Homo sapiens: one gene and its partners. The protein of the gene in region 1 interacts with the protein of each later gene in a pairwise test. Each region holds a gene or a part of one and is shown in the gene's direction. Other genes may lie near its edges.

The links.
Region 2: the proteins of PRPS1 (region 1) and PGLYRP3 interact in binary tests that used the Homo sapiens proteins (3 or more experiments, as listed by UniProt).
Region 3: the proteins of PRPS1 (region 1) and TUT7 interact in binary tests that used the Homo sapiens proteins (3 or more experiments, as listed by UniProt).
Region 4: the proteins of PRPS1 (region 1) and POLR3F interact in binary tests that used the Homo sapiens proteins (3 or more experiments, as listed by UniProt).

The regions. Positions count from the first base shown.
Region 1 is NC_000023.11:107,637,648-107,645,509, forward strand, and holds part of PRPS1 (ribose-phosphate pyrophosphokinase 1), read left to right. Parts: intron 1-1,647; coding exon 1,648-1,831; intron 1,832-3,254; coding exon 3,255-3,353; intron 3,354-4,718; coding exon 4,719-4,843; intron 4,844-7,529; coding exon 7,530-7,703; intron 7,704-7,862. UniProt on the Homo sapiens protein: Catalyzes the synthesis of phosphoribosylpyrophosphate (PRPP) that is essential for nucleotide synthesis.
Region 2 is NC_000001.11:153,302,346-153,310,207, reverse strand, and holds part of PGLYRP3 (peptidoglycan recognition protein 3 precursor), read left to right. Parts: intron 1-1,172; exon of another isoform or gene 1,173-1,327; intron 1,328-1,589; coding exon of another isoform or gene 1,590-1,697; intron 1,698-2,940; coding exon 2,941-3,142; intron 3,143-5,142; coding exon 5,143-5,261; intron 5,262-6,198; coding exon 6,199-6,351; intron 6,352-7,600; coding exon 7,601-7,799; intron 7,800-7,862. UniProt on the Homo sapiens protein: Pattern receptor that binds to murein peptidoglycans (PGN) of Gram-positive bacteria. Has bactericidal activity towards Gram-positive bacteria. May kill Gram-positive bacteria by interfering with peptidoglycan biosynthesis.
Region 3 is NC_000009.12:86,350,881-86,359,106, reverse strand, and holds the start of TUT7 (terminal uridylyltransferase 7), read left to right. Parts: upstream 1-4,696; 5' UTR 4,697-4,836; exon of another isoform or gene 4,837-5,657; intron 5,658-5,876; 5' UTR 5,877-5,907; coding exon 5,908-6,427; intron 6,428-8,226. UniProt on the Homo sapiens protein: Uridylyltransferase that mediates the terminal uridylation of mRNAs with short (less than 25 nucleotides) poly(A) tails, hence facilitating global mRNA decay. Essential for both oocyte maturation and fertility.
Region 4 is NC_000020.11:18,476,692-18,484,553, forward strand, and holds part of POLR3F (DNA-directed RNA polymerase III subunit RPC6), read left to right. Parts: intron 1-3,346; coding exon 3,347-3,490; intron 3,491-3,710; coding exon 3,711-3,818; intron 3,819-4,927; coding exon 4,928-5,119; intron 5,120-6,789; coding exon 6,790-6,867; 3' UTR 6,868-7,862. UniProt on the Homo sapiens protein: DNA-dependent RNA polymerase catalyzes the transcription of DNA into RNA using the four ribonucleoside triphosphates as substrates.

The DNA.
Region 1 (7,862 bases):
ATGGTAATATTAGAAAATATTACCATAGAAAATGGTAATATTTGTATAGTGCACTGGAGTAAACTGAGGCAGTGAACTGCTTCTGGTATAAGGCTCCTTCAGAGGATCTCCTGAAGCCTAGGTGATCAATATCCACATGTAGCTGTAACCATTCACAGCATACTAGTAGGGAAGCTGTTCTTAGACCTTATTGTCTATAGAAGTATAGTAAAGTCATCCCTCAGTATCCACAGGGGATTGGTCCCAAGACCAAATCTGCAGATATGAAATAGTGTAATATAAATATATATATATATATATATATTTTTTTGATATGGAGTCTTGCTCTGTCACCCAGGCTAGAGTGCAGAGGCACGATCTCTGCTCACTGTAATCTCTGCCTCCCGGTTCAAGCAATTTTTCTGCCTCAGCCTCCTGAGTAGCTGGGACTACAGGTACCTGCCACCACACTCAGCTAATTTTTTTTTTTTATTTTTATTTGAGACGGAGTCTCACTCTGTTGCCCAGGCTGGAGCGCAGTAGCGTGATCTTGGCTCACCGCAACCTGTGCCTCCCGGGTTCAAGTGATTCTCCTGCCTCAACCTCCCGAGTAGCTGGGACTACAGGCGTGTGCCACCATGCACGGCTGATTTTTATACTTTAGTAGAGATGGGTTTTCACTGTGTTGGCCAGGCTGGTCTTAAACTCCTGACCTCAGGTGATCCACCCATCTTGGCCTCCTAAAGTGCTGGGATTACAGGTGTGAGCCACCACACCCTGACTAATTTTTTTATTTTTAGTAGAAACGGGTTTCACCATGTTGACTAGGCTGGTCTTGAACTCCTGACCTCAGGTGATCCGCCCACCTCAGCCTCCCAAAGTGCTGGGATTATAGGCGTGAGCCATCACGCCCGGCCATATGAAATAATCTATGCACATGTTCCCTTATACTTTATTGTTATTTATTTATTTTTTGTAGAGATGGGGTCTCACTGTATTACCCAGGCTGGTTTTGAACTCCTGGGCTCAAATGATCCTCCTTCTACCCTGCCCCCTGCTCCCCAAAGTGCTGAGCCACCATGCCAGGCCCTCCCATATATTTTATTTTATTTTATTTTATTTTTGACACAGAGTCTCACTCTGTTGCCCAGGCTGGAGTGCAGTGGTGTGATCTTAGCTCACTGCAACCTCCGCCTCCTGAGTTCCAGCGATTCTCGTGCCTCAGCCTCCTGAGTAGGTGGGACTACAGGCGCCTGCCACCATGCCCTTCTAATTTTTGTATTTTTAGTAGAGATACATGGTTTCGCCATGTTGGCCAGGCTGGTCTCGAACTCCTGACTTCAAGTGATCCACCCACCTTGGCCTGCCAAAGTGCTGGGATTATAGGCATGAGCCACTGCGCCCAGCCCTGCCATATACTTTAAATCATCTCTAGATTACTTATAATACTTAATACAATATAAATACTACGTAAATAGTTGTTATACTGTATTTAGAAAATAATGACAAAGAAAAAAATCTGTACATGTTCAATACAGGTGCAATTTTTTCTCCAAATATTTTCAATCCACACTTGGTTGAATCCATAGATGTGGAACCTATGGATATGGAGGGCTGACAGTACAGTGGTTTAAAATCTATTTCATGTTCTTTCTTTCCTCATTGTAGTGTGGAAATTGGTGAAAGTGTACGTGGAGAGGATGTCTACATTGTTCAGAGTGGTTGTGGCGAAATCAATGACAATTTAATGGAGCTTTTGATCATGATTAATGCCTGCAAGATTGCTTCAGCCAGCCGGGTTACTGCAGTCATCCCATGCTTCCCTTATGCCCGGCAGGATAAGAAAGATAAGGTAGGAGCAGAATTTTATTTTTTGAGCAGAGGAAGCAGGAGCACTTGCCCCAAATCACAAATAAATTCCAAAATTATCAAATATATATTTAGGGGGAATTTTAAAAATCACCTTTTCTTAGGTATTACCCTATCTTCAAAACAATAGAAATATAATTGGTTTGTATAAAGCAACACATTTGTAGTCTGTATTTTATTACAGTGATACATATATAACTTTCAGTTAGCTCACTGGTATTTTTAATTGTATCAGTAAGACTAAGCACCAACTCCTCTGGAGTACTGGAGTATATTTTTAAAATTACGGTAGATCCTCTCAAACTGTAAGATTGGGATCCTAGTTGTGACCTCTTCATAAAACTTGAAGTCTGTTATATGAATACTTGATCTGATAGATACATAGATAGATAGATAGATAGATAAACTATATATATCTCTCACCTTATCCTGGTATATTAGAGGATAAGGCATATACATAAAACTTTGCAAGTCTATTGTAATTAATGCCCAATTTTACACACAATGCCTCGAAGAAGGTCAGATATTTTTATTCCAACAGAGTATAAAGTAAAGGGCATGGGCCGGGTGCGGTGGCTCACGCCTGCAATCCTAGCACTTTGGGAGGCCGAGGCGGGAGGATTGCCTGAGCTCAGGAGTTTTGAGACCAGCCTGGGCAACGCTGTGAAACTCCGTCTCTACTAAAATACAAAAGAAATTATCCAGGCGTGGCGCTGCGCGCCTGTAGTCCCAGCTACTCGGGAGGCAGAGGCAGGAGAATTGCTTGAACCCAGGAGGCAGAGGTTGCAGTGAGCTGAGATCATGCCACTGCACTCCAGCCTGGGCGATAGAGCAAGACTCTGTCTCTACAAAAAAAAAAAAAAAAAAAAAGGCATGCATGGACTTTGCTATTTTACAGTGCAGCAAGTATGTTTTATTTGAGGAGTTCATAGTTGTTGGAAAGTTGACCTCCAGATGAGTAAGTAGTGATGTGATTTACAAAGGAAACTATAATATCTATTCTGTGATGTATCTTCAAACCTTGACATGTTAGGTGTTAAAGGTTTACATATGTATGTGTTGAAAGAGATTTTAATAAAATTATTTTTTAAAGTCTGCCTAGTTTGAATAATTGAGCATTGGAAACACTTGAATAGGATTGAAAATGTGTACATTAAGAAAACAAAAGTTAGGAAAGCATTTTCTTTATTGATAAGTGTATCCTGATTTGGAAAAGTGATGTTCCACTTAATATTTGTTCTGAATTATGATCCACTTAAAGTCAATGGACATGTCTCCTTCTATGAATTTCTGGGTACCATAGTGCCTTTAACATAGTAGGTACACAATAAATAGTTTCTTGAGTAAATGAATTGTTTTTCAAATTGGCTTTTTGGTTTTTCTTTTCTTTCCTCCCCTCCATTTAGAGCCGGGCGCCAATCTCAGCCAAGCTTGTTGCAAATATGCTATCTGTAGCAGGTGCAGATCATATTATCACCATGGACCTACATGCTTCTCAAATTCAGGTATCAGTGGAAGCTAAATATTGGTGTTTGAAAGGTGGGAGGAAAGGACTGATGATGCTGAAGACTGCAGAGAAGCCAAAAATTATGCCCAAGTACATCTGAAATAAACTAGATATCAACAACATTTTAAATGTGTTCACCTTAAGCATACTTCATGATCTTAGTCATTTCAGGTGGTTAGATAGGGAGGCAGTCTAGTTTTATGGGAAGAGCACTACTTTGAATAAAGGCTCTGGTATTTACTAGCTTTGTAAGCTTGGGAAGGTTACTTAATTTCTCTGAACATATACTTTTTCATTATTGTGAGTATAAAACATTAAATTCATATTATAATGCCTGGCCCATGACAGGTACTCATAGATAGGAGCTGTTATTATCATTCTTATTCTCCTTGAATATTCATGGAGTGCAGTGGCACGATCTTGGCTCACTGCAACCTCTGCCTCCTCAGTTCAAGCAGTTCTCCTGCCTCGGCCTCCCAAGTAGCTGGGATTACAGGCACCTGACACCAGGCCCAGCTAACTTTTTTGTACTTTTAGTTGAGATGGGGTTTCACCATGTTGGCCAGGCTGGTCTCGAACTCCTGACCTCAAGTGATCTGCCTGCTGCAGCCTCCCAAAGTGCTGCGATTACAAGCATGAGCCACCGTGCCTGGCCTCATGGTCTTAAATTTAGAGCCACAGATATTGGAGCCTACTTTCCAACATAAACCCAAAGTAAGGGGGGTGGAATACCACCTTTATTTTATATTTTTTCAAAGAGATTTTTCAAATCATTACATTTCAAGCTTGTGGGAATTCAATGAAGTACATTGGACAGGGACTGTACTCCTTTTATGGAAAGGAATGACTTAATTGAGAAATACAACTAATTTGTATCAACTAGAATTAGAACACAGATCTCCTGATTTCTAATTATTCACTGTGACTATTTATCATAAGTAGCTTCCATTAAGTTTATATGCCATAGCATCTCTAACTGGTTTATCCATTAGCTTTTACTCCTTAACAAATCAGTCCAACACTTAGTGGCATAAAGCAGTATTTACAAACTCACTGAGTCTGCATGTTGACTGGGCAGTTCTTAATGGTTTTGTCTGAACTTAGCCATTCTTTACAAGGGCTCACTTATGTTCCTATGTTCAGTTGTGGGTTGACTGAGGGCTGGCTTTGCTGATCTTGGCTGGGCTCTCTCACATAGCCCAGATTCAAGGAGGCTTTTATAATCTACCACACTGGGCCTGCCTTCCCATCAGTTTGAATGTTGCAGTAAGACATTCTCTGAGCAAGTTACTACTTTGTGTTTGCCATTTATAAATGGAAGAGAAGGAAAGTGAAGCAAAACTGATCCAGCTTCTTTCTACAGGGCTTTTTTGATATCCCAGTAGACAATTTGTATGCAGAGCCGGCTGTCCTAAAGTGGATAAGGGAGAATATCTCTGAGTGGAGGAACTGCACTATTGTCTCACCTGATGCTGGTGGAGCTAAGAGGTATGGTTGAAATTAGTATTGTTCCCAATGTACTGGGAAAATCTTTCAGATGGTTGTGTCACAAAGTGAAGTTTTTCTATCCAAGTGGCAGTTTTTAAGTATTTTTGAATGGATGTAAGTAGCTAGCACATGGGTTGAATATAGTTTTACCCTTTCCTCTTTTACTGTCCTCAGTTACTACTCGGAAGACAAGACAGAAAAGGGGTCCTAAATCATCATATTATGGATTTGACTATAACTTATGAGTAACTTGGTGCTACAGAGCTAGCAATACAGCTATAAACCTTTTGGGAAGGGTAGAAAATGTGGTTTTCTAATGAATAGCAGCTGCTATTGAACCACATATTGGTGGACAAATTCGCTTTTACACTCCTCTTACAATGCTGTTGGTTAGATCATTTTGATCCTTGGGATTAAAATATTAAGCAGGAAGGAAAGTAAAGTGTGACATTTTTATTTAAAGCCAAGATCTTAACATTTTAAACAAACTGATTGCCAGGGATTGCCAGTTAACAGTGCTTTGCAGCTCACATGGTGCAGACTAAGAGCTCTTGATTTCCTTAGTGGATTACTCGTTAGTAATGCATTCAAAAGTGTGACACATGTTCTTCTTGTTGTGGAAATAGAATGAAGAGCTACAAAACACAGATGATTAGGAAGAGCTAATTCAGAACTTTCTAAAAGCCATTCAAATCTTCAATGACTGTTTCTCAACAACCTCTTTTATTTCAGTAACTTCAACAGAACTGATAAGCTGAGAACTTGAGTTATGTTATCCAGCCAGATATATGGGTTGGTGAGTCCCATGTAATTGCTAGTTACCATCTGTAATGCTAGAGACAGCCTAAGAAACATCCCCCCAACTAGTAGTTGTCATATTTAATTTGTCGGTCATTATTTTAATATCTTTCTGTGGGACTTAGAAAATAGTCACATTTGAAATAGGCAGGATTTTCTTTCCAAAGGTGGGTATAGGAAAACTGCCTTTAGTAGACAACTTATTGCTACCTGATTTTTTTTTCATTATCATTGTCTTATAGTGATGGAGTATTTTACAATTGAGTGTCTATCACTTCTGTGTTGGCAGGGTTTGGGGAGTAGGTAGAGATCCCTGTGTGATATTCATTTGTACAGTAGTTCTCTCCTCAAAAGGTGTAGAGAGTTACTTTTTCTAGCCCTTTTTATGCTTTGTTGGTCACTGAATTTGTTGGCCTTTGAGTATGGTTGGTTTGGGATACTTGAACTAATTGATCATGCATTTGCCTTGGGTAAGTAATCATTCCAAGCGAATTGGTTACCACTGATGTTATGTGCTTATGCAGTAGTAGTAATGGAGAGTACAGGGTATGGTTGGTTTAGATCAAGGTACAAATGTTACCTAGATTATGGTTCAAACCTTATTATGTGGTCACAGGTTCTCACTTATCCAGCAAAAACTCATGTGACCATAGTCACAAGAGAAACAGGACAAAATGCTATAGTTTGTTCAGTTCTACATTAAAAAACAGGACAAATCCCCAAGCACGGGCTGCTTCACACATGACGGAGATGGCACAGCGGAGCATGGACAGACGTGCCACTGGGGCAGCTCACTGTCATTTACACTGAATAGATTTTTGTTTGAATTATGTGGTACTTTGTCAAAAGACAAATTTGTCTTCTATCCTACCTTCTAGTCTGGTTTATTTTCTCTTGTAATAAGAAAAATAAGAATTCTCTTTGATTGGAAGATACTTTGGACCGAATGGTGAGATGCCTAGCTTGTCTGGGTAATTGATATAACTTTCTGTCTAGCAATTGTGAAAAAAACTCCCAAGCTTGGTGTCCAGGTACAGTTGACAGTGACAGTTGATGGATGTTTTGCCAACAGCACTGAGGGAAGTGATGAGGACACAGGCATTGGAACAGGCTGGATGCTGCTCCTCTCCTGCCAGTCAGGTTCTCTTCTCACCACATCCCCATTCACGGGTCTTCCATGATGGGAATTGGGACAGTCTGTGTACTCCTGGCATTAGTTAATTCTTTCCTCATTCCTTCTGCTGCCAATCCATTAAATAAACTTGCGTGTCTTAGCGTTATACTGCTTCCCAGTACTGGTGAGGGTGTCTGTCCTCTACCCAGAATGAATACTCATCTAAGTTTGATCAGTACGTTCATAAGCTTCTGTTGAGCTATGGAGGCACTGGTTTATAAAACCCAGTTTGTGATATTTGCCTTTGAGAAGTCAATGATAGTTGCTTTCATTCTTCCAGCCCTGGGAACTATTGGTTTCAAGGAGTATTCTCCTCCCCAAAACAAGCCCATTCTTTAGTCCATTTCTTTTTTTCTTTTTTTTTTGTTTTGAGACAGAGTCTCGCTCTGTCACCCAGGCTGGAGTGCAGTGGCGCGATCTCAGCTCACTGCAAGCTCCAGCTCCTGGGTTCACGCCATTTTCCTGCCTCAGCCTCCCGAGTAGCTGGGACTACAGGCGCCCGCCACCATGCCCAGCTAATTTTTTGTATTTTTAGTAAAGATGGGGTTTCACTGTGTTAGCCAGGATGGTCTCTATCTCCTGACCTTGTGATCCGCCCACCTCAGCCTCCCAAAGTGCTGGGATTACAGGCGTGAGCCACCGCCCCCGGCCTCTTTAGTCCATTTCTTTTGTCTTAGAAGCCACACATACATATGAACACGCTCTGTTTTGCAGAGTGACCTCCATTGCAGACAGGCTGAATGTGGACTTTGCCTTGATTCACAAAGAACGGAAGAAGGCCAATGAAGTGGACCGCATGGTGCTTGTGGGAGATGTGAAGGATCGGGTGGCCATCCTTGTGGATGACATGGCTGACACTTGTGGCACAATCTGCCATGCAGCTGACAAGTAAGTGTGGATTGATGGGGCTGGTAGTTAGAAGGAAAAAGCTAGCAATTGCTGTCTGAATGTCTTCAGCCTGCTGATTCCTTTTGGAACCAAATTGAGGGGATAAGTAACTTTGTGAGATTTTTATCACCCAAGGCTTAAATTATAATACATAGAAAT
Region 2 (7,862 bases), on another chromosome or scaffold:
GTCTACATTTGTAAATAAAAGCAAATTCCCCAAGAGTAGCAATGCCGTTTCTCTAGATTAAGAAGATTTCTTATCGTTATATACATAAGAGTAGACACATAGCAATGTTCATTAAATAAATGCTGTTGAATTAAAATGAAAGTGAGCTTGGTGATTCTTAAATATGACATGTTTTTCAGTTTGTTTTACATACACAGACCCCCTTCGGAAGGAAAAATGTAATATAGCTTTCTCTCTGTCCTCTGCTACTCAGACAGCAAATTTAATGGGATTACCTGGAGTTAGTGTTAGAGAAACTCACAGGCCTTTCATTGTATGAATGGAGAAGCTGAGGCCCTGATGGGGAAATTAACTTGCCCAAGCAAAGCAGGGAGTTTTGTGTGGTCCTCATCCCTGCCTCCTGGTTCCTGCCCTGCCAGGTGTCAGTGTTGGCCTGCGGGCTGCTCTTCCACTCTGAGAGTCCTGTGGGTTTCATTTGTAAAGTGTCCTCTCCGGGCTCCTCCCTCCCCCTCCCCAGTCCTCTGTGTCCCCTTCACAGCCCAGCTTAGGCCCTCTGCCTGCTGAGGTGGGCTCCTGTCCTCAGCAGTCTCTCCAGCACACCTTGGACTTGGGGTCCTGGTCATGTATTTGCTCTTGATTTCACAGAAGGACAGAACCTCAGAATCATGGTGGAGACCCTCAGTGACTTTGTCTTGTAGGAAGAGAAACAGGTCACATTGTGGCAGTGACTAACCCAAGTTCATCTGACAACTTTGGGGAGGCTGCAGAGTACAGTTGTTATGAACAGGGGCTTCGGGGCCAGAGATTCTGATTGGAATCTAAATCTACGCTTAAAACCTCTGTTATGTTAGACAAGTAACCTAACTTCCCTAAGACTTGGTTTCCCTTCTCTATAGACAGCATAGTTGCTTTGCTTAACTCATGAAGTTGTTTTAAGCCACAATTCTGATAGCATCCTTGGATGTGCTTTGTAACCACAGGGCTGGTCTGTGGGAGATGGGGTTGCTAACAATGTCACTGCTGCCATTGGCTACTGCTCCCAGGACCCCTGGTACTGAATGGGAGCAATGGGGGATAAGGACAGGCTGGCAGTGGCTAATCCACAGTAAAACATCTCTAAAACGTCTAGTTTTTGAAGGCGGTCACAATAATCTGTATATTTCTGTTTCAAGAACCTTGTCTGGCACCAATAGGTGATTAAGACATGTGTGTTAGCTCAACATGTCACAACTGTCTTGGTATGGGACACTCTGCTGGGTACCGACGGTTTGATTAGTAGGTCTGCCGGTGAACCAGGAAAGGTGGCACTGCCCAGATAAGGCAGCAGGTGAGACTGCAGTGCTCCTGGAATGGAGGGAGGCTGGGGGAGGTGGGAGGACAAAGGCCTCTCTGGGCAGATGTGGAAGGCAGAGGCAGGCCAAGGCCAGAGACTTCTGTGGTTCTCCTCTGTGTGCTTGCTAGAAGACGTTAGGTGACCTGGGGAGGAGGAGAGGCTGTGCACTGCAGAGTGGGATGTCTGGCCCAGCCTCTGAGCTTGCTGGCCATGTGCACTCCAAGGAGTGCACCAATGCACCAGTGCTCTCTTGCAGGGGATTTTCCACAGTTCTCCTGGAGTGAGACCCAAGCCAGAGGCTTGTCCCAGAGGCTTATGGACCTGTTTGTCAGCATCTCACAGTTCATTCACAAGGGTCGCAATGGTGAGGCGGTTTGGAGATTGGCTGGGGCTTCTTAAGTGGTCAGAAATGTTTCTCAGGACTTGATAATGTCTGGGCTGAAAGTCAAAGGGGTGGGGAGGAATCCCAGGAGGTTTGTCTCCAACCACTCCCATGGATCATCCTGAGTCCTTAGGCAAAGGGGAGTTCCTCAGCCTAAGGAGAGAAAAAGAAGAGAAACTCAAATGAAGAAAGAGAAGGAGGCTGGGCGCGGTGGCTCACGCCTATAATCCCAGCACTTTGGGAGGCCGAGGAGGGTGGATCACGAGGTCACGAGATCGAGACCATTCTGGCTAACACGGTGAAACCCTGTCTCTACTAAAAATACAAAAAATTAGTTTGGCATAGTGGCATGCACCTGTAATTCCAGTTACTCGGGAGGCTGAAGCAAGAGAATTGCTTGAATCCGGGAGGTGGAGGCTGCAGTGAGCCGAGATCGCGCCACTGCACTGCAGCCTGGGTGACAGCGCGAGACTCCATTTCAAAAAAAAAAAAGAGAGAGAGAAGGAGAAAAAACCCAGAGAGAAAAGACATGTCCTCCACTCCCAGCTCCAGCATGACAGTGTCTCCATTGTCCCTCAGAGCGCTCCTGGGGCTCCCATGATGAGAATGGAGAAAGGGAGCCCTCAGGTAGCCTGACGCGGCAGGTGGGATCTCACAGCCCTGCCGCTAGGGAGTGTTCGCCCGGAAGAAAGAGGTGCAGACCCCGTGTTTATGGAGCCTCCTGTGGGCTCTGGAGTCCCTAGTTGAGGAGACTGATAGAGCTTCCTTCAGAGAGTCATGGTTCTTAGGGGAGGGGAAGACAAGAGACACAGTTGAGACCAGGGCAAATGGCAGTGAGGAAAATGCATCCTCAGGCTTCTGGGCTAAGGAGGCAGCTCAGAGCCCCAGGGTGGGCGGCGGGGTTGGCTGGGGTGCTTTCTGAAGGAGGGGAGCATGTAGGCCAGGGGGCAGTAGGGGATGGGATTTGCCCTTCAGGGAAAGACAAGGAGAGATTGTCTGGGAACAAGGCGGCACGACTTCCCAGGCTGAGTGCAGCGTGTGTCTGGGCAGTGGTTCAGCCACAGTGGAGAGAAGGAGGGGGCTTTGGTGGTGAAGGGCTCCCCCAGGGTGTCTCCCATGCATGGGGCAGGTCGGGCCTGAGCATGAGAGGTCAGGGCACATGGTCGACCTGTTGGGGGAAGATGGGCAGGGCCTGCTATGTGCCATTCTGTGGTCTTCCCTACAGATACTCCCACCATCGTCTCCCGCAAGGAGTGGGGGGCAAGACCGCTCGCCTGCAGGGCCCTGCTGACCCTGCCTGTGGCCTACATCATCACAGACCAGCTCCCAGGGATGCAGTGCCAGCAGCAGAGCGTTTGCAGCCAGATGCTGCGGGGGTTGCAGTCCCATTCCGTCTACACCATAGGCTGGTGCGACGTGGCGTACAAGTAAGAGGCTAGCCAAGTCCCTGAGGCCCACATCCAAAGTCACGGGGGTGCTTCCCACTTCCCCTTCTCTGTGGCTCTTATTTTCTGCGCTTCATTTACATTGCTTTTGTAATGAATAGAAATGGTAAAAGGGGAATCAAACAAAATCCGAATCCTTCGGGGATTGTAAGAGGGATGACTCTAAGCCACTTATTTAAGTGGCTTTCGATTCTGGTGCTCCTGTGAAAAAGCAAGGAAGGTTACGTAACAACTGCAGTTTTAACTGAGTCCTTGGAACTCACGAAACGTTACAGTTTACAGAGGTCTTCACAAATATCACCCGATTTGGCCCTCCCAGCTACTCTGAGAAATGGGTTCCTACCCATATTCCTACCCTTATTTCACAGGCGGGAAAGCCATGGTTTGGGGGAATTAAAAGCTCTGCTCAGAGAGAGGAAGCACGTACCCAGAGCTGTGTGAGAGCACCTGCCAGTGTAGCCCTTGCTCCTCCCCACCTCACAGGGACTCGCACCTGGGAAGCAGTGTCCCACTTGTTACCCTGAAAGACCACTCTGACAGCAAGTCCGGGGACCCCACCGGGGAGAGTGGGCTTTGGGAATGGCGGGGAGGAGAGACCCGCAAGAAACAAGGGAGGGCATGAAGGAGCTGTGCACTGTGCATTGAGTTTCTGCTCTGGGGATCATCAGTGGAAGCCCAGAACCTTTTCTCCCTTAGCCTCAAGAATGAGGAGACACATGTAGAAGGAGAGGGAAAGAGAGAGTGGGAATGGGGCTGTCCCGCATGGAACTCTAAAGACAAACATAAATAATTTCTGAATTATCCATTTTGGAAAGGAAAATCTAAGTCTTATTTATTTATTTATTTATTTTTAAACACAAATAAATAAGAGCAGCTGCAGGCCCTGGTTTTGGCCCCCAGCACCCCTGGGATGGCTGGGTCTTCCCTGTCTGCCCATGGGGCATGTCATGTCAACCACGACTCACCTGCTGCCCCTGCCACCAGCACCTCCACCATCCTGCTGTTGTCGCTGCTGTGTTTTCTGGTTTGGTCACTGTATTCCTAAGTTATTTCAGCCTCTGCATCTCTAAGTCAGGTTTCTACAGTGACAACTTGACAATCTCCAGTTTTTGCAATGCAGCTGACAGTAGCTGTAAGGGACTGTTCACACCGTACTAACCACAGGCTGCTGCAGGAGTGACCAAGGAACCTGTGAAAGTACTGGCAGCAAAGCCAGGGAAGGGGTGGACACACCAGGCTCCACACCCATTCCTCATGTCGACATCGGTGTAGGGTGGAAAGTCGGCCTGACTCAGTTCAGTGTCTTTCCTTGACCTAAGGGAGGTGTTCTTTCTGTGTTCAGTTTGCTGCGGAAACTCATGTTCTATTAAAAGATGAATACGGCAAAGTTGTGAAAACATCAATTCTGAAGACTGATTGGAAAGTGGAGGAGAGAAATTATAAAGAGGCAGGAATAAAAGAAGTAGAATAAAAAATTGATTTAAAAAGTAAATGTGAAAAAGGAACATTCTAAACAAATTTCTATGATAAAGAAGAGCTTAAGGAAATTCCTAAAGAGAATCTGAAGAAAAACATCAATACAAAAGGAACTATTGAATCTGGCATAATTATTTTAGAGAATGTTCAAGTGTTTGGTCCTATAATTTAAAAACATGATGTAGTAATTTTTAAGCTCTTGAAAAGCATTGAACTAATGTCCTCAGGTCCTTGAGTGTCATGCAGTCAAATTCCACTTTGAACCAAATGAGTATTTTTGAAGTGAGGTTCTGGAAAACACATGCAAGCTAAATCCCAACAAAAATTAAAATATATTCCCATGTCTCTTGGAGGTCTAAAACTGGTTATTCTGCACCTCCTATTGTTTTGTTATTGGAACATAGTACTTACTTATGAGCCTCCAGAACCCCTTTTCCTTTTGAGGATCAGTGAGAGGTTTTCATTTATGGAGATTTGCAGTAAAATCATTATTTCCTTCTTGTCAGCTTCCTGGTTGGGGATGATGGCAGGGTGTATGAAGGTGTTGGCTGGAACATCCAAGGCTTGCACACCCAGGGCTACAACAACATTTCCCTGGGCATCGCCTTCTTTGGCAATAAGATAGGTAAGGGTCACTCCCTGCGGACCCTGTGCTGGAGAGTTGTGTACACTCTCTTCCTCCACTCCCAAGGGTCAACACTCATCTTTTTACCCTACATCATACTTACCTTCTCTGATGATCACCCTTCTCTTGAAATTCTTTTCTCCTTTGGATCCTGTGACATGCATACTTTTTGTCCTCTGCCTCTCTTTACTGGTCTGTACTCCTGTGATATTGCTGAAGCTTGCATGGGCGTTGCTTGAGCTCACGGTTATTGCTGTCACTTCTAAAGTCTGAGGTTGTCTGACATAGATGCTGTGACTGCCAGAGGCAGAGAAGCATGGCTCATCTCTTATTCCAGTTCCACTGGTAGAAAGTGACCAGAAGGCAGCAGGCAAGGAAATCTGGAGGTATAATTTGCAGGCTTCTAGCCCCTAGAAAAATAGAGAAAAGCACAGAACAGGGATGGAGCTGAGAAATAATACATATGGAACCAGCACCTGCCAGCATCCTCATTTGACAGCTGGGGCTAGGTAACAGCATTTCTCTCAGAGGTTTTCTGTGAGAGTTATGAGTTAACAGATATAAAAAGCCTACTGCACACCTGATCAGGGGAGCTATGAGTAAATTCTGGTTGCCTTTTCTCCTGTGCTAGTGCACACCTGACTTGGTCAGGTGGGCCTCCCTTTGCATGTATCCTTCACTGCCTTCCAGCTCTTCTGCCTAGAGATGGAGTGGATAAAGTCTTAGCTTGGCTCTTGGAAGAAGTTTTCAACCTTGGCTGCTAAGAGATCTAGGTAGCTTCTCGCCTCTTAGGCACTCTGTTCTGGCAACTGGACCAGTTTCCTCTCTTCCAATCCAGTTATTCAGGCTCAAGTGGTCATATCATCCTTTCTGCAGGTGTCTGGTCTAGGTGGAGTTTCTTACTGACATTTTTGTGCTCCCTGTCCTCCTCTTTAAGGCAGCAGTCCCAGCCCTGCTGCCTTATCAGCTGCAGAGGGTCTGATCTCCTATGCCATCCAGAAGGGTCACCTGTCGCCCAGGTATATTCAGCCACTTCTTCTGAAAGAAGAGACCTGCCTGGACCCTCAACATCCAGTGATGCCCAGGAAGGGTAAGACCCTCCATGTCACCTCACCCTCCTCCTCGTCACCACCTAGCCATGTTTGGAGTCATGTTTGGGAGTGCTTTTTCCTGTTAGACCCCATGGGATTCTGGGACTAAGAACATCTCATGCCTACTTTGAGATCTGGAAAATTCTGAGAGGGCATCTTCCTGGCCTCCTCTCCATCCCATCAGAATGAGATAGCCATAGACTTCTTCTTAAAACAAATACATATGTACACAGATTTTCAGTCAGTCAACAAATATTTACTGCATAGCAGGCACTGTTCTAAGTACTGAGCATACAGCTGTGAACAAAACAGATGAAACTCTTCACCTTCAGGAAGCTTGCACTTCAGTGAGAAGAGACAGAAAATGAACAAAATAACAAAGAAATGTATATGATGTTAGACGGCATAAAAGCTATGGAGAAAAATAGAGTGGGAATGGAGTGGGATTAACATGTATACATAGTTGTGTCTATTATGTGGGGACACGAAGGACATACATAAGCTTACATACCTTTCTAAATGCAAAAACCAGCCATGGCCACAGCACAGCCACAGCTCGGAGAAAAGCTTGTGCTCACAGATGATGCTGACATCAGAGTGCATATAACAAAAAGCTGAGTAATAAAAATAATGCACTATTTTGAAGTGAATAAGCAGCAACCTAAAACCAGTCAAATTAATAAGCACTCCTGCTAGTGGACCTTTTCTTGGGATCAATGATATTTTTAGAATTAGCTTTTTAAAACTGTAAATCTCAAATAAAATGTTTCTTGCTTTTGGACAGGCACTATCTTCAATAATGATAATTTCTTAATATTTGTACAGTTCTCTCTAGATTTCAAGTTGTTTCCAAATATGTGTGATCAGTTCGGAGAGTCCACTGACTTCCGCGTAGTAGCCCTGTTACATAAGCGCACATACCTGCATATATATTTGCAATGCATGGTCTTTTGAAGACAATGACCATGCCTCTGTATAACCCACAGCCCTTTCCCTTCTGCTTATACGCTGATTTCTATTGGTATCAGGCCTGTAGATTTTTGCCTCAGCCCCTTGGCTCCAGCCATCTGAATCAGAAACCTCCCAACTGGACTTCCCCAGAATCCCAAAGCTGATATTACATTAGGATGTGCCCGTGGGTGCTGGAGGCCTGGGAGAGGCTGAGGAATAATCCAGCCTGGAGTTGAGTGATTGCTCACAGAGAGGCAAAAAAAATTCCTACTTCCTTGGCTTTTCATTTTACCACAGTTTGCCCCAACATCATCAAACGATCTGCTTGGGAAGCCAGAGAGACACACTGCCCTAAAATGAACCTCCCAGCCAAATATGTCATCATCATCCACACCGCTGGCACAAGCTGCACTGTATCCACAGACTGCCAGACTGTCGTCCGAAACATACAGTCCTTTCACATGGACACACGGAACTTTTGTGACATTGGATATCAGTAAGTGGGATCAATGCCAAAAGAACCCTCTTTTTCTTCAGGATTGTAGGAAGGAAGGCTGTG
Region 3 (8,226 bases), on another chromosome or scaffold:
CCTCGACCTCCCTGGGTTCAGGTGATCCTCCCACCTCAGTCTGCTGAGTAGCTGGGACTACAGGTGTGTGCCACCATGCCAGGTTAATCTTTTGTATTTATCGTAGAGATGGGGTTTTGTCATGTTGCCCAGACTGGTCTCAAATTCCTAGGCTCAAGTGATCCTCAGGCCTCAGCCTCCCAAAGTATTGGGATTACAGGTGTGAGCCACCACGTCTGGCTGGACACACTTTTCACCTATTTTTTTAAAACCATTTTTCTAGTCTGAAAGACTTTATCTGTATAAGAAGAAACTTTTGCTCAACACACACTTACTCTACCCTCACCTTTCAATGACTGTGGTCACCACCTCCCCATCAGAGGCCCTGGTTTCTTTCTGTAGCTCAGGGTCCCATTTAAGCTTCAGCCATTTGGCCCTTCTTTGAGTTTCATACTTTGTTTGGGTCTCGCTAGCTTGCAAGTTAATAAATCGATATGTTTTTTCTCCTGTTAATCTGTCTATTGTCAGTTTGTTTTATAGATTCAAACCATCAAAGCTTCTGAGGGTATAAAGTTCCTTCTGCCTTTACAGAAGCAATTATACCAACTTGGTGTCCTATAATCCATTTCAATTCTATCTACCTGGCAATAGTGTCAGATCCCACAGGTGAGGGCTCAGCCCTACGAGTTTGCCCCCACTTCAGATACCAGTCACAAGTCAAAGCCACCCATACTTCTGACTGACTGGTTTCTGAGGTTCCCGTGTCCCCAGTGGCCCAGAGAACTCAGGGAAACACGCTTACTGGTTTATTATAAATGATATTATAAGGTATACAGATGAACAGCCAGATGAAGAGGTACATAGGGCAAGGGCACAGAGCTTCCATGCCCTGTCTAGGTGAGCCAACGTTCAGCACCTACATGTGTTCAACTATAGGGAATCTCATCAAATCTTTTTGTTCAAGACTACTTAGAGAGCTTGATCTCCGGCCCCCTCCTCCCCTTCACAGAGGTCAGTTGGTGAAGCTCAAAGTTCTAACCCTCTAATCCTCCAATCACTTGGTCTTTCTGGTGATTAGCCCCATGCTGAGGCTATGTAGGGCCCCCATCCTAAATCATCTCATTAGCATAAACTCAGGAGTTTAGGGGCTCACTATAAACACGGAAAGACACTTCTATCACTCAGGAAATTTCAAGGATTTTAAGAGCTCTATGACAGAAACTGGGGACAAAGGCCAAATATATTTTATATTATACCACTGGGGTAAGAGGAATAAGGGCTGAGATCGGGAGGTAAAGGGAAAGGCCCTGAGTCATTGAAGGATTTTGGTTTTTACTCCCAGAGAAATTGGGAGCCAGTGAAAGGTTTTGAGGGGTAACTCAGTCTGATTTTTAATATGCATTTTCTGGCTATTGTGTCAAGAGTAGATTGGAGGACAAGGTGGAAGCAAGTGATAGTGGTGAGCATTTGGCTGGAAGCAGAGAAAGTAGTGATAAGTTACTGGACTCCAGACAGATTTGAAGGACAAACCAACATAACTTGCTAACAATGTGGATAAAAACCGCTGGCATTTAAGCATTAGAGCTCTAAAAACCGAAAACCAAACCAAACCAAACAAAATAAAACACTGGGGAAAGAATTTGGCTGATAAAGCTATGAATATAATTCCTGTATTTCTGACTCCATGGCTGTATAGAAAAAAAGCACTGGGTTTGTTCAAAGTTGACTTGTCAAGATGTATTACAATGTTAATTTCAAGATAGAATTACAAGAATGTCAAGATGTATTACATGTGTTACAATGTAAACTTCAAGATGTATTACATGTATTACAATGTGAATTTCAAGATAGAATTACAAAAATGCCAAGATGTATTACATGTACTACAATGTTAATTTCTAGATAGAATTACAAGAATGTCAAGACATATTATGTATTAAATGTTAATTTCGAGATAGAATCACAAGATTTCAAGTTGTATTACAATGTTAAGCTCAAGATAGAAAATATATTGTAACATATGGAGCAGTATTAAGGTCCTCTGAACATTGCTTAACAGTATATGGCAGCCTTTGCCCTCACATTTCTGCTCCAGGTTGTTGGAAATATGTCAAGACCGTGAAGCAATCACCATAAAGATTCTGAGAAACTCATTAATCCTTCCAGTGACATCCAAAGAAAACTCAAATCAAAATTTCCAACCAGATTGTAAGAATTCCTAGGACCAATTTAAATATCCATTACAGCATAATATGGACAGAAAAAGGTATATTCTGCTGTCAATATATTTTGATTAGTACTGCATCTTATTTGAGAGAGCCTGATTTGTCCTCAAAATGAATCTTAAAAGCAACCATTAGAATAAAAGAAGTTGGGCTTTGGGAAAGACGTTGAAGAAAACGCAAATTCAAAACGTTTTATTTTTTAAATTTATTTTTGAGAGAGACAGGGTATTGCCCTGTTGCCTAGGCTGGAGTGTGGTGGCACCATCATAGCTCACTGCAGCCTCCAACTCCTGGGCTTAAGGTATCCTCCTACCTCAGTCTCCAGGGTTGCTGGGACTACAAGCAGGAGCCAAAGTGCCTGGCAAAAGTATTTTAAATCGGGCCAGGCCTGGTGGCTTACGCCTGTAATCCTAGCACTTTGGGAGGCCAAGGCCGGTGGATCACTTGAGGTCAGGAGTTCCAGACCAGCCTGGCCAACATGGTGAAACCCCGTCTCTACTAAAAATACAAAACTTAACCAGGCATAGTGGTGCCTGTCTGCAATCCCAGCTACTTGGGAGGCTGGGGCAGGAGAATCACTTGAACCTGGGAGGCAGAGGATGCAGTAAGCCAAGATCGCACCACTACACTCCAGCCTGGGCAACACAGTAAGACTCTGTCTCAAAAAAAAAAAATTAAATCCTTAGAAAGATGTATCCTCTGCTGCTGCTCTAGAACTCTAGGTGGAGGCAAAGGTTGCAGCCAGCGGAGATCATGCCACTGCACTCCAGCCTGGGCAACAGAGTGGCACTCCATCTCAAAAAAAAAAAAAAAATCCTTAAAAGTATGTATCCTCTGCTGCTACTCTAGAACTCTAGGTGGAGGCAGATTTCTAAACCAGTTCTTTTGCACAGGAATTACTGGTTTGGGTGGGGCGTGGTGACGCTGCTGTCTCAGAATTAATGTAATCATGCATCTCCACACTCCCTTTTGGACTATATTTTCAAGGCCACTGTCTGCCTGTTGAAGAGACTATCAGTTTGATCCTCACGTATTTTCACAATCAAAATATCTAAGTAAGGAATTATATAAAAGTTGTAGGAATGTGTTTTATATCACTTTTAGTATAGCCACATGGTTAATAACAGCCTCATATTCAGGGTCTGGATTGCAGCAGTGCCATTTACTTCACTGCAAGTGCTAAATGTCCTCATCTTTAAAAGTGGGATAATGATATAGTCTTCATGAAGCTGTGAGGATTAAAGAAGTTAAGGCTGGGTATGGTGGACCACCCCTGTAATCCCAACACTTTGGGAGGCCAAGTTGGGCGGATGGCTTGAGGTCAGGAATTGGAGAGCAGCCTGGGCAACATAGGAGACCCCTGTCTCTACAAAAATATAAAACAAAGGAGTTAATATTTGTAAAGCCTTCAAAACAGTTATTGGCATAGCCAGAACTTTGTGTGTTATTATTTTAAGACCATTGCTCCACAGGACCTGACAGCTTTCAATTTACATGCTTTAAAAAAGCAGAGAAATGAAAACTGTCGATTTTCCCAACGCTCCCTAATTTCACTAGTTGCTTGATGTTTTTCAAAGCATTTAGAACACTGTAAACAGCAAGGAAGGTCATACAGTAAAGAAAGAAAAAGCAACCCCGAGTTCGAGGTGTGCACTCTTCAACTCAAAAATTCGAATGTAACGCTCTCTGGTCATCCCTTGCCATTACACATATTCTTCGAAATGAACTGATTTTTTTTTTTTCCAAGTAAAAGTAATCCTTACACAACCTAAGAAAAAAGCAGAGCATTTTCCTTGACCACTTTGAGATCTGGGTGAGCAGTGGATGTTTAAATGCTGGCATTTCTACAAGGTCGGCAATTAAGAATTCACGAAAACATTAATCACTACGAATTATCAGAAAAACACCAAGAGCGCTACGAGGCCTCGGAGCCTTTACTCCCCCTGGAAGTAACCGGGGAGCACCCAGGGGCAAAGCCGAGGCCCCAAGCGCGGGGAATGCGGCTTTGCCCGACCGCTGGCTCCGCGTCCCTCTCCGGGTGCATAAGTCTTGGCTCCCGCGCCTCTCCCGAGCACTTAGCCTCCCGAGCAGAGAGGGGAACCAGAGGAGCGTCGAAGCCGGGAGAGAAAAGGGGCGGGCGCCGCTCTGGTAAGAAGTTCGGGCCTGGCCCCCAAGCGCCGGCGAACCGGCTATCCGGCGAGCCAGTAATTAGCCCGCTCCGACGGTTGCGCCCGGTGGCCAGACCCGGCGCCCGACACCTGGAGCGAGTGCGCTGGGGCGCCGGACAGGAGAGGCCAGGCTGGCAAAGGCGCGGGAGGCGGGGTCGGAGCGTGGGCGGGGCACCGCGGGGCGGGGCGCGTCGCTCGTTTCCGGTGTGCGCGGCGGAGCGCTAGGGCGGGGGCACAGTCGGCTCCCAATCGCGCACAATGAGACAGCGCTGAGCGCCGGAAGTGGGGCCGAAGGAAAACACGGAGAGGGAGCCCGGCCGGGACAGGAAGAGGCTGGGGACCGCGGCGAAGGTGGTGAGTGCTCTTGGGCGCCTTCTCCCAACGTCCCTGCCAGACTCGCCTCCGGGCTGATTCTCCAGTTGGTTTCCTGGACTCCAGAGTAGCTGTCCGGCCTGGCCCCGGAGGTACGTTGGTTCCATCCCCCGCCGGCCTCCTCGCACCAGTTTGGGTGACCGAGGAACCCCCAGGCCGGCAGAGGCTGAGCCCTCGGGTTCGAGTCCGTGTTTTCACTTTTTGTCAGACTGCGGGCGCAGAAGACGGGATTTGGGTCAAGACATTCGGCTCTGGCCCCCTGGCCGGCCGGGGGAACCCTGGAACCCCATGGAGACAGCAGGTCACTTCCTGCTTCCTGGTCCCCACGGTGGCTTCTTGGCCAGGAGTGCAGGGACGCCTCCTCTTTCTCCACGTCGGGCTCAAAAGGGTGGAAACTAAGGCAGATCGGTGGTGGAGCGGTCAGATGGGGATTGAAGAGGAGTGTCATTCCTCAGGGAATTGCTGTTCCTGACAAAACCAAACTTGTTTGGGGTTGGAGAACGGGGATTGAGGAGGTTAGATGGAGTTGTCCCTTGATCGGAAACCCAGCCTCTTTAATTACAGCTGCACCTTGGTCGGAAGCCCAGCCCCTCCGTAACCTAAGCGCTCAAAGCCGGTCTGTCCAGAATAGGGGTGGTGAAGGGACGGAAAATTGGAGTTGAGAAATGTAGTACTCCTTTCACGTAAAGTTTCGGTGTATAACACTTACAAGTAATTGCCAACTTAAAAAACAAAAGACTGTTTCGGTAGTTTAGTAATAATATTGGCTTGGGATGAGGTTTTCTTTGAAGAGAAACGCCTTGTTACAGAGGGAAAAGCCGACCATACTTGATATGAGTAATATTCTACTATGCTACAGTTCTGGAACCTATAGAGCTTCTCTTATTCACACATTTAATCTTCATGCTAAATAGTAAGTATTAATTTTCATGAAGAATATTAGAGGACCAAGCCTCCCAACCTCTAGGGTAAAGCACTGATTATTAAGAATGTGATAGAATTTTTATTTTAAAAAAATAGGGAGTTTCTTTCTTACAGGCTTTGGGGCATCTGTACGATAAATTGTTATTTTGTATACTTGTATGATATCTTGTTATATAGTTTGATATTTCCCCAAAATACCTTCTTTCAGGTGCAAAGTAAGAAAATTGAAGTCAAAGACCATGGGAGATACAGCAAAACCTTATTTCGTGAAGCGCACTAAAGACCGGGGGACTATGGATGATGATGACTTCAGAAGGGGTCACCCCCAACAAGATTATTTAATAATAGATGACCATGCTAAAGGCCATGGCAGTAAAATGGAAAAGGGCCTTCAAAAAAAGAAGATAACACCAGGGAACTATGGGAATACCCCCAGAAAAGGACCATGTGCTGTTTCCAGCAATCCATATGCATTTAAAAACCCAATCTACAGTCAACCCGCTTGGATGAATGACAGCCACAAAGATCAGAGTAAGAGATGGCTGTCTGATGAACATACTGGTAATTCAGACAACTGGAGAGAATTCAAACCTGGACCTAGAATTCCTGTTATAAACCGACAAAGAAAAGACTCCTTTCAAGAAAATGAAGATGGTTATAGGTGGCAAGACACAAGAGGCTGCAGAACTGTAAGACGACTGTTTCATAAAGACCTAACAAGCCTAGAAACCACGTCAGAAATGGAAGCAGGAAGTCCTGGTAATGTTTTCCAACTTGTCAGATCACAACCCCAGAGTCAGCAATGTTTTATTCTTTTTCATCCAAATGAGTTTTGTTATTTTCAGCAATTTAGTTTCAGTTTTTCACAGTTTCTGTTTTAAGAAATGGTCACTTAGTGTGATTATTTTAAGGATAGTAATCATGATATTTGAGCAGCTAAAACACATTTCATATGTTGATCCCTTTAAAAGTTTACTTTGCCCCAGGGCTCACTTTACGTCAGTAAACATGTTTTCTGTAACGTGTTTTTTACAGAAGAGGGTAGCTATATGCTCCAGGGGACCATATCGTAATTGCTCAGTGGTTTGTGTGTTTTCAAAATTGTGATTATAATTTTGTATTTGAATAATTAATGTGTTCATAATATAAATGACAGAATATAAAGCTTTTTTTAAAAAAAAAACTTATTTGTTGATGTAAAAACACAGTATACACTGCGTATATCTCCTGCCACAAGAGATATATCTTTTGGATGTAGTGTCAGTGTCCCGAGATGGATAATCTGAGATCTTTGTTTTTCAAAAGGGATCGTGACAAACAGGTTGAGAAACAAGTTTAGAAAGTCAGAAATAGATTCAAGCTTTGCTGTTTGGTTTCAGTAAGACCAAAACTAATTTCTCGGTGCCCTCACATGCTTGGTTAATTGCCCCAAAGGGATAATAAGGAGATAATATGTTTTTCTAAAAGTAAAAAGTAGATTTTATCCATGTGGCAACGATTTCTGCAAACAGGAAGGTTATTTTTATCTAATGGGAGATATATACCGAAATGAAATAAAGTCACAAATTGGATGGAAAAAATGAAACAATATCACAGTTGGAAACATGGACTTGTAAGTTTAGTGGCTGAAAGCGTTTTTTAGTGGTTGTATAGAATGTGTTTCAAACTGGCCAGCACTTTTAAATAAATTTTTTTAGTTTAAATGCATTCAGGGAATATGGACACTTTCTAGATCACCCGATGCCTTTTCTCTTCATGTTATCTCACAGTGGCCAGTTCATACACTGGTTACCTATAAGGTGTTTGAATTTGTGTCCCATGCGTATAGAATACTTAAAAGCCAAAAGGTCGTCTTTTATCTTTACAAGGTCTTAGGATAAAAATGAAAGTCTCAAGCACTTATTAATATTAAATGGGGGGAAATGTGCTACTTGATTTTTTTTCTTTTTTCACAGATACTTCTAGTTGTCAGATCTGTTTATTTATATTTTATTTTATTTTTTGAGACGGAGTCTCGCTCTGTCACCCAGGCTGGAGTACAGTGGCGCGATCTTGGCTCACTGCAACCTCTGCCTCCTGGGTTCAAGCGATTCTCCTGTCTCATCCCCCAAAGTAGCTGGGACTACAGGCACATGCCACCACATCAGGCTAATTTTTGTATTTTTAATAGAGACAGGGTTTCACCATGTTGGCCTGACTGGTCTCAAACTCCTAACCTCCAGTGATCCACCCACCTTGGCCTCCCAAAGTGCTGGGATTACAGGCGTGAGCCACCACATTCAGCCTGATTTTTTTTTTTTTTTTTTGAGACAGTCTCACTGTGTCACCCAGGCTGGAGGTGCAGTGATGTGACCTCCTCTCACTGTGGCCTCTGCCTCCCAGGATCAAGCGGTTCTCATGTCTCAGCCTCCCAAGTAGCTGGGACTACAGGTGCACACCACCATGCCCAGCTAATTTTTCTGTTTTTTAATAGAGATAGGGTTTCTCCCTGTTGGCCAGGCTGGTCTTGAACTCCTGACCTCAAGTGATCGACCTGCCTCTGCTTCCCAAAGTGCTGG
Region 4 (7,862 bases), on another chromosome or scaffold:
TCTGCTTTGCAAGACACATTAAGAGAATGAAAAGACAAGTTACATACTAAAAGATATTTGCAAATCACATATTTGATAAAGGACTTGTCTCCAAAATATACAAAGAACTCCTAAAATTCAGCAATAAGAAAACAACACTTTGGGAGGCCAAGGCGGGTGGATCACCTGAGGTCAGGAGTTCAAGTCTAGCCTCACCAACATGGTGAAACCCTGTCTCTACTAAAAATACAAAATTATCCAGGCGTGGTGGCACATGTCTGTAATCCCAGCTACTTGGGAGGCTGAGGCAGGAGAATTGCTTGAACCCAGGAGGCAGAGGTTGCAGTGAGCAAGATTGCACCATTGTACTCCAGCCTGGGCAACAAAAGCGAAACTCCATCTCAAAAAAAGAAAAAAAAAAAAAAACACACAATGAAAACAAATAATCCAACTAAAAATGAGCAAAAGATCTGAACCTCACCAAAGAAGACATACAGATGGCAGATAAGCATATGAAAAGATGCTCTACATTATTTTTCATTAGAGAACTGCAAATTAAAATAAAATTTAGTATAGTGAGATACCACTACACACCTATTAGAATAGCTAAAATCTAAAAATTGGTAATACCATATGCTGACAAGATACAGACCAAGATGAACACTCATACATTGCTAAGAATGCAAAATTTTCAGTCCTTTTGTTAAAAAACTGGGCAGTTTTTACAAAACTAAACAGAGTCTTACCACATTGTCCAAAGGTCAAGCTCTTAAGTATTTACCCAACTGATTTGAAAACTCATGTCCACATAACTACATGAATATTTATAGCAGCTTTATTCGTAATCAGCAGCTTTATTCATAATCAAAAACTGGAAGCAACCAAGGTATCCTTCAATAGGTGAATGGATAGACAAACCAGAATAGTATTCAGTTATAAAAAGAAATAAGCTATCATGAAAAGATATGAGTAAATCTTAAATGCATATTGCTAAGTAAAAGAAGCCAGTCCGAAAAGGCTACATACTGTATGATTACAACTATATGACATACTGGAAAAGGCAAAACTAGACAGACTAAAAAGATCGGGGTGAGGGCAGGGATGGTAGGGAAAGTTGAATAGGTGAAGCATGAGAAATATTTCTAGGGTGGTGAAATTATTTTGTATGACAGAAGCATTAACCAAATTTGGAAGCCCACCCAAGCTTTGCTGTCCAAAGTTTTTATTAGGGTTTCATTATACAGGCATGATTGATTGAATCCTTGGTCATGTGAGTGAATTCAATCTCCAGCTCCTCTCTTCTCCCAAGAGATTGGACTGATGTCATGTGGCCCAAAGCCCCAACCCTCTAATCATGCGGTTGGTCTTTCCAGCATGGACAACTCCTATCCTGAAACTATTTAGAGTCCTATCAGGAGTCACCTTGTTAGCATAAACCCAGGTGTGATCTAAGGGATTCACCATGAATAACAAGGCCTATTGGGAAATTCCAAAGATGTAGAAGTTATTTCCTAGGAAAAAGGGACAAAGTCTAGCCAAATTTTTTTCTTTTTTTTTTTTTTTGAGACATGGTCTGGCTCTGTCACCCAGACTGGAGTGCAGTGGCACAATCACAGCTCACTGCAGCATCAACCTCCTGGGCTCAAGCCATCCTCCCACCACAGCCTTCCAAGTAGCTGGGACTATAGGCACGTGCCACCATGCTCAGCTAATTTTTGTATTTTTGTAGAGACAGGGTTTTACTATGTTACCCAGGCCTGTCTTGAACTCCTAGACTTAAAGATCTGCCCACCTCAGCCTCCCAAAGTGCTGGGATTACAGGCATAAGCCACCATGCCTGGCCCAAATTCTTCATGTTTACAACCCAGTGAAATTTGGGTTCCTCAGTGTTGGGGTGAGTAGTTACAGACAAACAAGGAAAGTTAGAATGATCCATGTAGTAATGGATTAGACTTGAAAACATCAGTATGGACTCTTGTGTAATTTAATATAAATAATATAGATGGTTATATTTAGAAATATTGAGTATAGCTATGTATATATACAAGGGTTAATATGCGCACATAAATCTCGTGCTGCCAACTGAGAAGGCCTAGAAGTGATGACATCCCGATGGCAATGAACACATCTAGTGCCCAAGTCGTGGTTTCTATCATGCAATAAAATGAACATGTAGAAAATGCTCCTGACGGCTGGGCAGGGTGGTTCATGCCTGTAATCCCAGCACTTTGGGAGGCCAAGGAGGGTGGATCACCTGAGGTCAGGAATTAGAGACCAGCTTGGCCAACATGGTGAAACCCCATCTCTACTGAAAATACAAAAAAATTAGCTGGGCATAGTGACGGGCGCCTGTAATCCCAGCTACTCGGGAGGCTGAGACAGGAGAATCGCTTGAACCTGGGAGGTGGAGGTTGCAGTAAGCTGAGATCGTGTGCCATTGCACTCCAGCCTGGCAACAAGAGCGAAACTCCGTTTCAAAAAAAAAAAGAAAAGAAAATGCTCTTGACATCTTGTAGTGCTAGAAAGTAAGAAAGTGCTACAATAGCTGGACACGGGGGCTCATGCCTGTAATCCCAGCACTTTGGGAGGCTGAGGCGGGAGGATCACGAGGTCAAGAGATCGAGACCATCCTGGCCAACATGGTGACACCCCCGTCTCTGCTAAAAATACAAAAATTAGCTGGGCATGGTGGCACATGCCTGTAGCCCCAGCTACTCGGGAGGCTGAGGCAGGAGAATCACTTGAACCCAAGAGGCAGAGGTTGCAGTGAACCAAGATTGCACCAGTGCACGCCAGCCTGGGCGACAGTGCAAGACCCTGTCTCCAAAAGAAAAAAAAAAGTGCTAAAATACACACACACACGATGGGAGCATAGCAAAGGGATACAGGAACCAAGTGAAAAGCTTCCAATGCCCAAAGCATTCCAAAGCTTCCAGTGTGGGAATAACAATGAAGTATCTGAATGTAAATCAAAGTATAAAATAAATACTCATGAGTCCATAGTGATAGAAATACGGTGTTTGAGAAACTGTCACAACTAAAAGAAGCCTGAGAGAGATGACTAAATGTAGTATGATGTCCTGGATGGAATCCTGGAGCAGAAAAGGAACATTAGGACTAATGAAATCTGAATAAAGTATGGCATTTAGTTAGTAATGATTTATCAATATTAGTTCATTAATTGTGACAAGTGTACCACACTAATCCAAGATGTTAAAAATAGGGGAAACAGCATGATGTATATAGGAGCTCTGTGTACTATCTTTGCAATAATTTTGTACATCTTAAACTGTTCCAAAATATAGGTGTTTTTGTTTTTGGAAATTGTTATCTTATAAACACATGAACTGTGCATGTTCTTTCCTAGGCCTCAAAAAAGAAGGTGTATATGCTCTATAACCTGCAGCCAGACCGGTCTGTGACTGGTGGAGCCTGGTACAGTGACCAGGATTTTGAATCTGAATTTGTAGAGGTGCTTAACCAACAGTGTTTTAAATTCCTACAGTCCAAGGTGAGGTATGATTGAGGAAACATCACTGCAAACCCTCTTGTAAAAAGTTTTTCACAAAGGATTTTAATCTATTTATCATATTTTATAGGAATTAAAAACCTGAAATTGGGAATTTTTACTTAACTAAATATGTTCTGTTGTTGGTTTGACTCAGTATAAAGTGTATTCAGAAAACACACCAATATTCTTATTTACATTTCTTATGTTTCAATCCTTATAGGCAGAAACAGCACGAGAAAGCAAACAGAACCCAATGATACAAAGAAATAGTTCATTTGCCTCATCACATGAAGTGTGGAAATATATCTGCGAATTGGGAATCAGTAAGGTCAGAACTGAATTTCATCTTATTTTTTAAAACTTATTCTTTGTCACATACAATGTATTCCAAACATGTATTTGACCCACATTGTTTTTTTTTTTTGAGATGATAGCTACGAACATTCTGCAGAATCCACTTTGGGAAAATACTGTCCTGTATCTTAGGCAAAGGCAGTCACTGCCATTGGGCATTGTCTGAACTGATACTCAGCTTGGGACACTGATGCTTTTTTTATTTTTTTGGAGGTAGGGTCTCATTTTGTTGCCCAGGCTGGTTTTGAACTTCTGGACTCAAGTGATCCTCCTGCGTTGGCCTCCCAAAGTGCCACTGTACCCTAGCCTTTTGAAATTCTTTTTTTAAGGACACTGATGCTTTTCACAGTGAAGAAATCAAAGTGGCCATTTTGGACATGTCACTTTAATTTCCTGGGCCTCAGATTTCTCATAAAAACTAGGAACTTGGACTATTTGATGTCTAAAGTGCCTTTCTGCTCAAGCATTTTATAAATCTCCAATAAATTCCTGCTAAAGAAATGTTATTTTTTATAAGATTTCTCGATTTTACTTAGGAAGTAAAGATACCAGAAAGTGTCAAACTCAGCATGAGCTTAGAGTTCTGTCCCTGGCACCTCAGTGGTTTGTGCTAACTTGGCCTATTGTTCCTCCTCTTTGTGCTTTAAATTACTCCACCCCAGCATAATGTTTCTCCCATTTCACAGCAGAATTATGACCCTTTACTGTTTTATTTATTTATTTGAGATGGAGTTTGGCTCTTGTTGCCCAGGCTGGAGTACAGTAGTGCGATCTCAGCTCACTGCAACTTCCGTCTCCCGGGTTCAAGCCATTCTCCTGCCTCAGCCTCCCGAGTAGGTGGGATTACAAGTGCCTGCCACCATACCCAGCTAATTGTATTTTTAGTAGAGACAGGGTTTTGCCATGTTGGCCAGGCTGGTCTCGAACTCCTGACCTCAAGTGATCCACCTGCCTCGGCTTCCCAAAGTGCTGGGATTACAGGCGTGAGCCACTGCGCCCAGCAACCCTTTACTGTTTTTAACACCCTCCAAGTGGATGTCTCCCTATCCTACTTGTGTCCTTTCTGATGTATCCCTTTTTTAGGTAGAGTTATCCATGGAAGACATTGAAACCATCCTGAATACACTCATTTATGATGGAAAAGTGGAGATGACGATTATTGCTGCAAAAGAAGGCACAGTTGGCAGTGTAGATGGACACATGAAACTGTACAGGGCAGTCAATCCAATCATCCCTCCCACAGGTTTGGTCCGGGCACCCTGTGGACTCTGCCCGGTGAGTTAAAGTGGCTTCACTTTACACTTGACTGCCCACGGGTGCAAGTGCCACATTAAGAAACAGAGCAAGCACAGCCCAGTTTTCTCAGACTCTTAGGGTTGACCAAGAGCTATTCAAACCTCCATGAAACCTTGATGAACAGACCTTTAATGAACACATCATTCCTTTACTTTTTTTTTTTTTTTTTTTTTTGAGACGGAGTCTCACTCTATCACCGAGGCTGGAGTGCAGTGGCACAATCTTGACTCATTGCAACCTCCAACTCCCGGGTTCAAGCAGCTCTCCTGCCTCAGCCACCTGAGTACCTGAGATTATAGGCACCCACCACCATGCCCAGCTAATTTTTTTTATTTTTAGTGGAGACGGGGTTTCACCATGTTGGCCAGGCTGGTCTCGAACTCCTGACCTCAGGTGATCCCCTCAGCCTCCCAAAGTGCTGAGATTACAGGCATGTGCCCCTGTACCTGGCCCCCTGCTTTACATTCTTTCTTGGAACAACCACATTAAGGATATTTACGTTTTCTGCTCTTGGCCTTGAAATGGACACTTTTTGATGAGGGCTAATCATTTCACCTAAATAGGGCAGAAAATGAGATTTGTTGAGAACCTACCTTGGGCCAGATATGTCCTTGATGATTTCCATAGGCGGTCTCATTTAATCCTCCTTACATTCTTGAAGCTAGTGGTGTTATTTCCCCTTAAAAGTGAGGGAGCTTAGGCTTAGGAAGACATAGGGGCATACAGCTTAGAAGTAACCGGGATTCAAACCCAGAGATCATGTCTTTCCCCTGCAGCATGCCCCAGCACTCCTCCTTCATTCATTCCCAAATATTGTAAGTGCCAACTCTATGCTCTAGGCACTAAGGATACAAGAGAAAGCAAGAGACACTGTCCCAGTCCTCATGGCATTTATAGATGAGCCTGTGTGTGTTTTATTTCATTATACCAACCTTTGTCTATATGCCTAAGCTCTCTATGCCTTGGTTTCAGTCCCTAGACAAAAGGCTAACATATTAGGAATTCTGTTTTGCACCCTTCACAAAAAGGTAGCTAAACATGAAACATTTGGTTAATCAAAATTAAGTCATTCATATGTATAGGTCTCCCTGCCCATATTCCTGTGTTACCTGGTGATAGCCTTTTGCCCAGCAGACAGGTGAGCATGGTCATCTTAATGCCACAGTAAAAAAAGCCTCTCTACTACTCCTAACTTGATGATCACAAAGCAGGCCCTATTATAGTATGTTCTTCCCGCTCCCCCCTCGCCCCCCGAGATGGAGTCTTGCTGTCGCCCAGGCTGGAGTGCAGTGGCACGATCTTGGCTCACTACAACCTCTGCCTCCCAGGTTCAAGCAATTCTCCTGCCTCAGCCTCCCGAGTAGCTGGGATTACAGGTGCCTGCCACCACGCTCAGCTAATTTTTGTATTCTTAGTAGAGACGGGGTTTCACCATGTTAGCCAGGATGGTCTTGACCACCCACCTCGGCCTCCCAAAGTGCTGGGATTACAGGTGTGAGCCACTGCGTCCGGCTATAATATGTTCTTAAGTACAGTCCTAGTCCCTTTCAGTTTGAAAGTTTTGTTTTTAATCTTGCTTTAAATAAGTGGTTGGGTCTTAGATATTTTAAAACTTTAATTTGAATATAATTTTTTTTTCTTTTTTAAAGGTTTTTGATGACTGCCACGAAGGTGGTGAGATTTCACCATCTAACTGTATTTACATGACAGAGTGGCTCGAATTTTAATAGAGAGCTATGAACTTTATTGACATTTTGCAAATGAAGTTACTTAGGGAGCAGATAATTTAATTCATGATGGAACACGAAATCTCCTTGAAAGCAAACTTCACAATAATGGACGTAGACTTGCTGCTATGAAAACATATTTTTTTTATTTATGAAGACTAAATTTATATTGGTAAAATAGCCAGTAGAATATGAAAGAAATAAGGTTAGTAGTGAAATTCATTCTTCAATAAATAAAACACTTTGAAACTCCGGAGGACCACATCTTTCAAGACTTCTGATGGGTCAAGGAAAAAGATGCCAACATACCCGTATTTACCAAGTACTATGATAATGGCTAGAGTATAAAAATGTTCTTTTTAAAGTTATTTATTAAGTTCTTCATTGGAAGTTTTTTTTTATATCTGGTTCACTACCACCATTTTCTGTTTCCTACTTTCTCAGTGGTTTCATTGAAAAGAAATTAGAAGGGGTTAAAGGCAGGAATAGCAAAGAGTGCAAACTTGGGGTATGACTGGGGGAGAGTGGAACATGCCTTTTCCGCACAATATTAATTCCTTTTTGTATCAGAAATGTTCTTTTAGGAGATTATGCTACCATACTTACTTCAAACCCAATGACTACTGTCAAGGACATATTTTCAGTACATAAATACTATCATTTTCATTCTAAAGAATATTTTCACTGTTCCTTCTTTCTTAAAGTCTTATGTTTCACTCTTTAACTCAAATGTATTCTTTGTTAGAATTTACCCTAGATTCTTATTTAATGTCTGCAGTAGACTGAATGTTTGTGTGCCCCCAGAATTCTAATGTTGAAATCTCATTTCCAATGTGATGGTATTTGGAGGTGGGGCTTTTGGTAAGTGATAGGTCAGGAGAGTAACAGCGCTCATGAATGGGATTAGTGCCCTTATATAAAGAGACCCAGAGAGCTCCATCACCCCTTCTGCCATGTGAAAGGGAGAAGACAAACATCCACGAACCAGGAAGTGG